Linked DNA regions of Homo sapiens: region 1 is linked to region 2. Evidence: fine-mapped expression QTL. A gene starts in region 2. The other region holds a variant in brackets. All regions are shown on one strand. Distances are from middle to middle. Region 1 overlaps AGGF1 (angiogenic factor with G-patch and FHA domains 1). Region 2 holds the start of AGGF1 (angiogenic factor with G-patch and FHA domains 1).

The links. PIP is the estimated chance that this variant, and not a neighbour inherited with it, causes the effect.
Region 1: its variant is fine-mapped to the expression of AGGF1 in monocytes (TOPMed, PIP above 0.99). The same link has a PIP of 0.9 or more in whole blood.

Annotation. Positions count from the first base shown.
Region 1 is chr5:77,065,177-77,070,556 of GRCh38, reverse strand. AGGF1 (angiogenic factor with G-patch and FHA domains 1) reads right to left here. Exons shown (of 14, transcript NM_018046.5): 14 at 5,323-5,380. Among named protein-coding and RNA genes, the nearest start is that of SNORA47, 13 kb to the left of the region's middle. The variant A/G (reference allele first, on the strand shown) is at 3,307.
Region 2 is chr5:77,027,225-77,032,604 of GRCh38, reverse strand. It overlaps AGGF1 (angiogenic factor with G-patch and FHA domains 1), which reads right to left and starts at 2,201. Exons shown (of 14, transcript NM_018046.5): 1 at 1,629-2,201. The coding sequence starts at 1,838. RefSeq lists enhancers at 1,384-1,963, 1,975-2,324, 1,964-2,543.

The DNA.
Region 1 (5,380 bases), 38 kb before region 2:
AATCCTATCTAAAAATAAATGTAAGCTCCATGAAGGCAGGGAGCCTTGACTGTTTTATTCACTGTTGTATCCCTAGTGCCTAGAACAGTGCCTGGCCTATGCTACGTGCTTCATGGCTATTTGCTGAATTAATGTATGCTGTTGAAAGATTTTTACATATGGGGACCGGAAATCTACTTCTTGGAATTCTCCCTGTAGCTCTCATGCTCCCATAGAGTACTGAGAGCCAGGGTTGCCTGGCTACATCTCCCTATCATTCCTCCAGACGACTCCATTTCCAAAGTCATGTAGAATCCATTCCTCCTCCTTTAAGGATGATGAGAGTCACCTACAATAACTTCTGTCCTTTCTCACTATTGTCTACCAATCTCCTCCTCATTCTCCAATATTCACTTAGAAAGCCAGCTCCTGACTCAGTCTTCTTGTCCACATCTATCTCCTATTGCCTTGTGGAATGAGGATGACCCATCCACTACTTGCTAGCCTCATTCCTCATCCTACCTGACTTCCATAACCACCATCTCTACTCTGGGATTCTACTCCTACAACCATGTCCTTGGTATTGCTAGCATGGATAATAACAATGCTAATAATCACTAATATTTGGAGGCTTATTATGCACCAGACAGTGTGCTCAGTGCCACACAAACCTTATCTCATTTAATCTTCACCAAAACTTGAAACCACCTTTGCAAAAATTATGACAGTGAAAGAGATTTGACCTAACTGACTCCGTCTTGCTTCTATCCTCCACGCTGTCCTTGTTCATTCCTCGGCAAAGACCAAACTAACTTTTAGAGGAACTTAGTTTATATTTTAACTTTAAAACAAAGATGATAACAACCCTTTCTTGAAATAAACCCCCTTCTTGCTTGGGGACCAGACTGCCTTTGTAAGACTAACAAATTAGCCTCAAGATTAGAAATTATTGTTTAGGAGTTATGCAACCAGAGGCCATAAGATTTGAACCTCTCCAATTGCTCCTAGGGATAAAATCACTATTGTAAAACCTAAGATTGGTGGTTGAGATATCTTTCAGACCCTGCATTCTGATGCACCAGCTGGAGCCACCCAGACTGATAATCTGGCTCAACCAGTCCTGGCTCACCCAGGAACAGAAGACAGCAAGAAGAACCCACTTTGACCCCCTATGATTTCAACTCCGACCAAACCCATCAGTACTCCCCACTATCCTAGCCCCCATCTGCCAAATTATCCTTAAAAAAAAAACCCAGTCTCCACATTTTCAGGGAGACCAATTTGAGTAATAAAACTCATCTCCCACTTAGCCAGCTCTGCATGAATTAAACTCTTTCTCTATTGCAATTCCCCTGTCTTGATAAATCGGCTTTATCTGGGCAGCAGGCAAGGCGAACCCGATGGGCAGTTACAAACTCCATAGAAGACACTTGGGTAGAGAGGTTCAAATAAATTTTTAAAGGTCACTCAGCTTGGAAGTGGTAGAATTTTAATTTAAACTCAGCTCAGTCAGACTCTTCAGCCTGTGCTCTTAATCATCCCTGTGGGATGGAAAGAATCAAGATAGAAACCTCAGCCCTGCCACTTCTGTCACACCGGCTTTTTGACTTTGAGCAAAATAAAAACCTCTTAAGCCTCAGTTTTCTAATTCATAAAATGGTGTCCAGAATAAAGAATGTATGTTAAGGGCCTAGCACAGTGCCAGATGCAACACAAATGTGCATTCCATCCATTCCACCAACAAATGCTTATTGAGGACCTCCCAAACATCCAATCCTGTGCTAGGTGCTGAAGACAGAGCAGTGAATAAGACAAAGAAGGTTCCTGCCTTCCAAGATGTGCACAGCATTTGGTGGATGCTCAATAAATATTTGAACAAACTCTCAAAGAGGTCAACCTACACTCAAGATTTCCAGTCACCACTCTGCCTTTCAATCAACCATAGTTATTCTGCTATAAAGCAATCTAATGAGGTTCCTTTCCTGCTTAAAATCCTTCAGTGGATTCCTCATTGTCTCACAGATAAAATCCTTCATTTCTTAATTATGTAAATTTCTCAACACAATATGCGGTTTTGGCTACAGGTAAGAGGCTCGGTTTTGTTCACCCCTTCTTTGTTATGCAATCAAACCTATCTGGAAGCTTGAACTGCAAATCAGATGAATGTAGACCTATTGTAGTTAATGAGCCTGAGAACTGGAGTCACCACAGTTTGGCATCCTAAACTCTCCCCACCTCATCACACAAACATAGACTCACACAGCTGCAGCTCCTAAGGCAATGCAATGGGTTCTTTGAAAAGGTTTGAAAATCTGATTGTAGGACACAGCCCATTAGTGCATTATGAAAGCAATTTAGTGGATGCAATCAGTGATGTGGAAAACGAGTGTATTACATGAGCTTATGGCAAAGTACTGGTATACAAAATCTATGTTACATATGCTATGAACATGCTCGTGTACTGAACTGTAATACAAATTGTATTCACATTGTAGATCATCATCAAAATAGTTTGAAAGCCATTGTTGTAGATCCTCTATGTAGCCTCAGTTCCCATGTTTCTTCAGTCACAGCTTGATAAGACTCCATCAAGCCACTTGCAGTTACCCATTGTGTGCTTCAGTGCCTATGGTTGTATAAACCAGATGTGGTGCTAGGCTCTACGGATGCAATAGTAAGCATACCCAAGGTCCTGCTCACATGGCACTTAACAATCTAGAGAAACTGAGAAATATTACACTAACCACACTAATATGTAACTGTGAACCAAGCTAAGTGGTCTAAATGAAAGAAATGGTTTTTCAAAATACTTATCAAAGGCAATTAATCTAGTCCAGGGCTTCAAAGGAGGCATCCCTGAAGATTCAATCAGCAGAGACCTGAAGACTATGTGAGAATTAACTATGTAAAATGGGGGAGGAAGAGCATTCCATACATGTAATACAATGTTAAGAGGCTCTGTGATGAGAGAAGGCAGCTGTGTTTGACAAACTGAAAAAGGGGCCAGCATGCTAGGGCCCAGAGAACAAGTAGGAAAGTGACAAAAGATGAGACCAGGAAAGCTGGCAGTGGCCAGATCCCTTAGGGTTTTATGGGCCTGGAGTTTGTTTTATGGCCTCAAAGTAATGGGAAGCCAAACAGGAGACGATGAGATGGAAGTTGTCTGCAGTGTGGAAGATGGAGGAAAGAATGCCTGCAGGAAGACCAGTTAGGAAGCCCTCAGAATAATTTTGGTGACTGGTAACAGTGAACTGATTTAATATATTGGAAACAGACAAAGGGGAGAAAAGCTAGTGGTTGTGAAACAGAGGCTGACTCAGGCTTCTG[A/G]CTCACACAACTGGATGGATGGTGTTACCAGCTGGAGAGAGTAAACTAGAAGAGACTAGGTTTGGAGAAGATTATGGAGTTAGTCTTGGAGTTGCATTTAAAGTGACTCTGAGATGGATATGTAAGTCATAAGCTCAGAATCAATAACCTAAGACAGCCTAGAAGTCATGAGTTTATAGATGGTAAGTGAAACTGGGTATATATGTGAGAAAAATGCCTGGGTTTGAGCCATGAAGGCTTAACCACAAATTTAACCACTTCTGGGTAAATTCTTACCACAAGTGTGTATATACATACACATTAACCACACACCTGTTTACTTTTTAAAAGTTCAAATATAGAAATAATAAAATGTGAAAGTCTGCTCACTCTGGGTTATCAGCAACTCAATACACACCTTTGTAATTTAAAAATAAAAATGGGATTATGCCATATATACTTTGCTACAATCTGCTTTGTGAGATATTCTTCTACACTAGGGTATACACAGTTCTATCTTATTCATTTCAATGGCCAGAAAGTATTACATAGTAGGGATGCATCACAATTTAAGCAACCCTGTAGTCCCCACTGATGGACAAGTACGTTATCTGGCAGTTACCTCTACCTGCCCATTCAACATCCACTGCCCCCTTCTGCTTGGTTCACTGAACCTATTTCATTCCAACGGCAACATTCTCAGCTGCAGGTGATGGTTCATGACTGGCTTAAGCCAAATGTGACCATCTTGTTACCCACTTTTATAGCATCTCTTCTATGGGTAGCCATGCTATCTGGTTCTGGCTAATGACCCTAAGAAGTCAGTTTCTGAGTAAGCTGTTGTTTTCCTAAAAAAAGAGAACTAACACTACACTCTGCTCTTTCTTCTTTCTTCTTGCTTTAGGTATGAATATGATGTCTGAAATTTCAAAAGCCATTTTGCAACTACAAGGCCATAAGCCAACACTAAGATTAGTAAAACAGAAAAGCAGAAGAGATAGCCTGGGCCCTGAAACACACAGAAATATAAGTAACCACTGCCTCATTTTAAAGAATCAAAATCCATTTCCACTTTAAAGGCTGAAAAAGTAAAATGAAATGTTTGAATCAAAGATTCAGAGCAGAAATATAAGTTATGCCCTAATAAAAGAAGCACACTTACAACAAGATGGTGGGGAAAATACTTTCAACTGTTCCTGAGACTGCCTTTGAGTTTTGGGTCCACAAGTGCTTTCTTGCCCCCTGCCAAGGACATCCCTCTGTCCTGCAACTTTACAGAATGGCCTTCGTATGCAATCTCCAACGTCTCTTGCTTTCCCTTGTTTGAGATTTCTATCTTCTTTGCCTGCTCTTTAAAAATATGTCAAATTAAGAAATAATCTTTTGGACAGGCATGGTGGCTCACGCACGCCTGTAATCCCAGCACTTTGGGAGGCTGAGGCAGGCAGATCACCTGAGGTCAGGAGTTGGAGTCCAGCCTGGCCAACATGGTGAAACCCCATCTCTACTAAAAATACAAACATTAGCCAGGCATGTTGGCATGCACCTGTAATCCAGCTACTTGGGAGGCTGAGGCACGAAAATCGCTTGAACCCAGGAGGTTGAGGTTGCAGTGAGCTGAGATTGCACCACTGCATTCTAGTCTGGGCAACAGAGCAAGATTCTGTCTCAAAAAAATAAATAAATAAAAATCATAAAAAATTAAAAATATTCTATGGAAAGTCAGAAGGTTTTTGATTTGCGTAAACCATTACGTTCTATAAATGCAGGATAAAAATGACACATCAGAAGTAACACTTGTTTCAAAAGCAGAAAAAAGTTCCTCTTTTTGAGGATAAGGGTGCTTCCTCTATTTAATACTGGAAAAAATTTCTATTTTACTCTAATGTTGAAAGTTTCTTCTGTTCTCAACTTTGCCAGCTTATGTTCTGGCAAAAATATTAGATGTTAGATTTCTTAAAATTCAGAACTTGCAGCTCCACTTAAAATACATACTTAAACGCTACTCAGAAAATGTGTAGTGTGATTAAACAAATATTTAAAATTAGACACAAAAAATTTATGCAAAATTCAAACTGTATATAATTCACATTTA
Region 2 (5,380 bases):
TTTGCTCCCGTCTCCCCATTTTTTTTTTTTTTTTTTTTTTTGAGACGGAGTCTTGCTTTGTCGCCCAGGCTGGAGTGCAGTGGCGCAATCTCGGCTCACTGCAAGCTCCGCCTCCCGGGTTCACGCCATTCTCCTGCCTCAGCCTGTAGCTGGGACTACAGGCGCCCGCCACCACGCTCGGCTAATTTTTTTTGTATTTTTACTAGAGACAGGGTTTTACTGTGTTAGCCAGGATGGTCTCGATCTTCTGACCTCGTGATTCGCCCGCCTCGGCCTCCCAAAGTGCTAGGATTACAGGCGTGAGCCACCGCGCCCAGCCACCTCTCCCTGTTTTTTTTTTTTTTTTTTTTTTACCATATTTGTATTTTCCTAGCATAGTTATTACACACCGTAGGTGTTTAAATTGACTAAACAAAAACTTTCCAATAATGTCATGTCAGGAACTCCATGTAATGGTCATACAAAGTCATTGCAACTCAACAGTTATTTTCATAGTCCATTTGGTAACAAAACAAAGAAGTCTGATGACGTTTCAGTGTTCAGCCTATATACTGGTTTTAGGAAACCACCAATAAATTATGAAGGACTAGACAACGGTCAAATTGAAACTAGTTACTATGTGGAAATAATCTGTTGGCAGAGAGGGCCTGCCAACAAGGTAGAAAAAAATACTATGCTCTTGGTTTTTTGGTTTTTATTTTGAGACAGAGTTGCACTCTGTCGCCCTGGCTGGAGTGCAGTGGCACGATCTCGGCTCACTGCAACCTCCACCACCTAGGTTCAAGCAATTCTCCTGCCTCAGCCTCCCGACTAGCTGCGATTCCAGGTGCCCGCCGCCACGCCCGGCTAATTTTTGTATTTAGTAGAGACGCCCGGCTAAATTTTGTATTTCACCATGCTGGCCAGACTGCTCTCGAACTCCTGACCTGGTGATCTGCCCGCCTCGGCCTCCCAAAGTGCTGGGATTACAGGCGTGAGCTACCGCGTCCAGCCAAGGTTGTTTTTAATGTGACAGTTTAAGTATTAACATTTGCCCCTACCATCTTGGAAACGAAATAAGCTGCTTAACGTCTCCAACAAAAGCAGTTATATATCGTCCCTACTTACACAAGAAAGCCGAAGATGATAAACGCCCAGAAGAGCAACCTTAAACAGGTATAGCATTCAAAAGTTTGTAAAATTGTTTGTTTTACTTCACCTTTACTACTGTGAGCTATCATTCTCATTTAATGGGGAACTGAGACTCGGTATATAAGTTCACACACCCAGTGAATAGCAGAGATGGGATTCTGACTCAAGTCCAGCATTTTAATAAACTCAAATGTGATCTACAGTAAATGCGCCTACTGCCAATGGGATGTTAGGTCAAGTGAGAATGAAGACAATGTAGCCACAGTACTTAAGTTCAATTCACGCCAGCCGCGAGACATTGATTTAAATCAAGTAACCTGAACTCAGGTTTGCTCCTAAGGTACTTGGAATTGTAACTGCGCTGAGCTTCTACTTATTTACTTTAAGTACTCTACAGTAGTTCTGAGCCCCTGCCAGGGACCCCTTCCGAGGCTATCACGGGCTTCGAAGGCCTCGCCTGGGCTGGATGGGGCGCGGGGCTGAGGAGGACCGCGCACCTGCGTGCGGAGCTCCTGGTTGTTGCTTTCTGCGTTCTGGTACAGCCGTTCTGTGTGATGCAGCAGCTTCTCGATCTCCCGCACCTGCCGCTTGCAGCTCCGCAGTTCACGTTCCAACTTCTCCACCTTCCGCCTTAGCTGGGCCAGCTCAGGCTCGGGGGAGGTGGGCGGCGGCGGCGACCGCGGCGGGGACGGCGCCTCCGAGGCCATGAGCTCCGGCGCGAGACTGCTCGTCGCCGCGGAGGGGCTGCGTTCAGGCCGAAACGGACGCCGGCGGACCCAGAGACCACTGGAGCGCGCGGGCAGCGAAAGGCAGCCTCACACCCGGCTGGCCGCGGTGGCCCCTGGCCATGACGCCCTGAAACTCACTTGTAGCCGAACGGGGCTGCGAGCAACGAGCAAGGGGACCGAGGATGGCCCCTGCCCGATGTGCGCGGCCTGCAAACCGGAAAACTTTCCTGGAAACTACCTTCTCCAGCTACAGAGACAGAGGGAGGAGCGTCGGATAAGCAGTCGGAAAACCAGAGGCCAGAAGAGCTCCAGCAGCTCCCCAGTTGAGCCGGAAACAACGGCGCCAGCGGCAGGCGGGACCAAGACGGAACAGGAAGCGACGGAAAGCGGGAAGACCTGACAGTGTACGTGCCGACGTCTCGGCCTGCGGAGGGGCGTTACCTGAGGGCGTGGAGAGCTGTGGCAATGTGGCTACCGAAGCCCTAAGAGCGACAGGGAGGCTTGCAGCCTCTGGTCTCAGACATTTGCACGTGCGGATGTTCTTTGAACAAACTTTTAGTATAGCATGCATTTCCTATCTCCTTGTTTTACAAATAAGAACAGAGTATCCCAGAAATGATTTGTGGGGACTATGATGCTCTACTTATGTCAACTGAAGAATGAGGAGGTTAATAAATTTAGAAAAGGGCTTTATTTCTCATGAAGGGTTACAGCCTGCAGGGTGGCCTTTCTGACAGGCTTGGAAGCATAGCCTCTGGTCAGAAGCTGAGAACAGACACTTGGAAGGAAGGACAAAGGGAACAGAAATTTATGCTGAGCAGGGTGGCCAAATATATTCAATGAGCTGTAGGAGGATTCATGAATATTTATGAAAGGAGAAATATGCACATGCACAATTAAGCTTCCTGCCTCTCTATGGGACCCATATTCAAAAAATGGTGGTGTTAGCATGATCCCAGTGTGAAGTTTTCAGCCCTCTGATGTCAAATGGCAAAGCAGAGGACATGAAAACCCTCGCTGTGAGTCCCTGGTAGATTGGCCAGAACTTCTCTGTGGTTGGTGGTCTCTTATCAGGAAGGAATGCTGGTTGGTGTGAAATCAGCCCAACTGTCCTATAGAACTGATGTTTATGGTTTCTTTTGAATAAACCTGGAAATTTACCCTCCCAGTCTTAAAACTTCAGAAAGTTACATCTTTCTTATCTGAGTTCCTTTCTTGGGAAACCAACCATGAGGCCTCCCAGATAGTATCAAGGAATTGAAACTTACCAGATCACTGCATCTGGACAATGAGGCACCATACCCCTCACCCATCATGATTGCCTAACCAGCCACCTGCTGCCTGTTGAACAAGTCCTCATCCTTACCGCTCACTAATTCCTGTTTTCTCACATGTAGTCACATTTCTCCCTTGCCATATAAACCTCTAATTTTAGTTGGTTGAGGAGATGGATTTGAGACTGATTTCCTATTCTCCTTGGCTGCAGCACCCAAATAGAACCTTCTTCCCTGGCAATACTCCTTGTCTCAATGACTGGCTTTCTATGTAGTGAACAATGGGTCTATTCAGTCAGTTCAGGGGCTCAGAATTTTACTTTTATTTCTCATTTAGTCATTCTTCTGGTTCCTGAGTTTAGACCCCCCGGGAAAATAGAGCAAGTACATTAGGTCTGAGTCGCAAAAAGGAGCATCCCTGGTGGGAAAATAAGAGAGAGACAATATTCTGTGGAAAAGGGGAGAAAAATGCTCTGGTTTGGTGCATTTATTTGGTCTTTTGTCTGCATGACCCTGGCATTGGTTTGCCAATATTTAAACTGATGTGGCCTTCTTTGGAACACACTTCCTTCCTTTGCCAAAGTCATTTAGAATTAGATCATGAGCTCAGAGTCCTGGGCCTGAGATTTGTGGAGGTCAGCAGCTGTGTCATGCAGATGCTCCTCTCTCAGGGCCCAGCACAGTGCCTGTCGCAGAGCAGTATCCGTAAATGCTGAACACAGCTGAACAAGAGAATCCTGTTTGGTGTCTTAGATCAGTGGCCACTTCCATTAACTATATTTTCTTATTTTTTGTATTCTTGATGCTCTGGCATCTGGGGTCTCCCTGACCAGGGAGATAACCCCTCCAAGGGTTAGCTAATTCCTAGACATAGCAAACAACTCACCCAGCATGCCACACACTGATCATCTACCTTCTTTATCAGGCTGTTACACTCCATGCCAATATTCCCCTGCCCTAATCACTCCAGGGCAAAGTACCAGACAACTAGGAACAACTCCTACATCTCAGATCCCACTGAAATTATGCAAACTAAACCTGCTTATCCTGATTTGTCCATTCCTTCCTGCAAAAATCACATAATGTTTTTTGCCATGTTTCCTCCCACTCCTTCTGCCTCCTTTGGACCTTGGTGCTTCTCCACATTGCCTTGTGTGGCTTGGTGTGCATCCTCCTCTTGGGCTGGGTGAATAATAAACTGTCTTTTTGATAGCAGACCATCTCCTGATCTGTTGGCCTCACCATACATAAATAATAATAAAATCTAAATTTTAAAATATGGCTCTGTATGTATTTTTGTCTTGTGCACTGCCCACTAGATTATTCATAAACAGTGAGCTTTCCAGCAGAGACCTGCCCTCTCTAGGGCCTGTACACATTCCTCCTTAGGCCTGAAGAGTTCTTCACAAGGCACTGTATCTGGAAACATAGAGATTCTACCTTATTGTCATGTCAAGAGTAACCTTAAGCCATCAAAGGAAGTTTAGTGAGAAGACATGGTATGTCCCCTGTGATGCAAAAAAAAAGATGTATTGCAAAAAATTTCTGACTTCCCTTGATGCATTATGACTCCATTAATGAACATATTGAAGTCCTTTTAAAAAGATGCTATTTTCTACTTTCTCCACCTATTTTCTTTAGGGGATAAGAAATTCCATAAATACCATTTGAAAGGTATCTTTAAGATGATATTTCAGTTTTTAGTAATTAACTGGAGAAAAAATAAATAAGCTTATTGACTGCTACTTGAAGCAGTGCTCCTCTTATTTGTCTTAATCTGTTCAAGGCTAAGTTATCTTTACCTTGTAATACCAGTCTGTATCCTACCTCTGACCATTAGAAAAGAATGACATTTTTTTAGAAAAAGCCTTGAATATCAGGAATTGCATTAAGGTGCTAGTATCAGAGGTGGTCTATAGTGGCTTATTAAACAAATTAGGGTGTTATCCTGTTACATTACAGAAGCCTAGAGAGGGGCAGTCCATGGCCAGTGACTCCACAGTTCTTCAGGGACCCAGGCTCGGTATGTCTTTCTGCTCTGCTATTCTCGGAGCATGTTTCCAGAGCCTCCAGGTCGATCCATGGTGCAAGATGGCAAGGGATGAAAGGACTTTCCCAAAGCCCCACTCAATGGTTCCTGTCTACCTATCAATAGCCACCCCTTGCTGCAAGTGGGGCTGGGAATTATGTGTATATGTGTGTTTTTCTAAGCTAGACGCATTATTCTCCTAATAATATAGGGGTTCT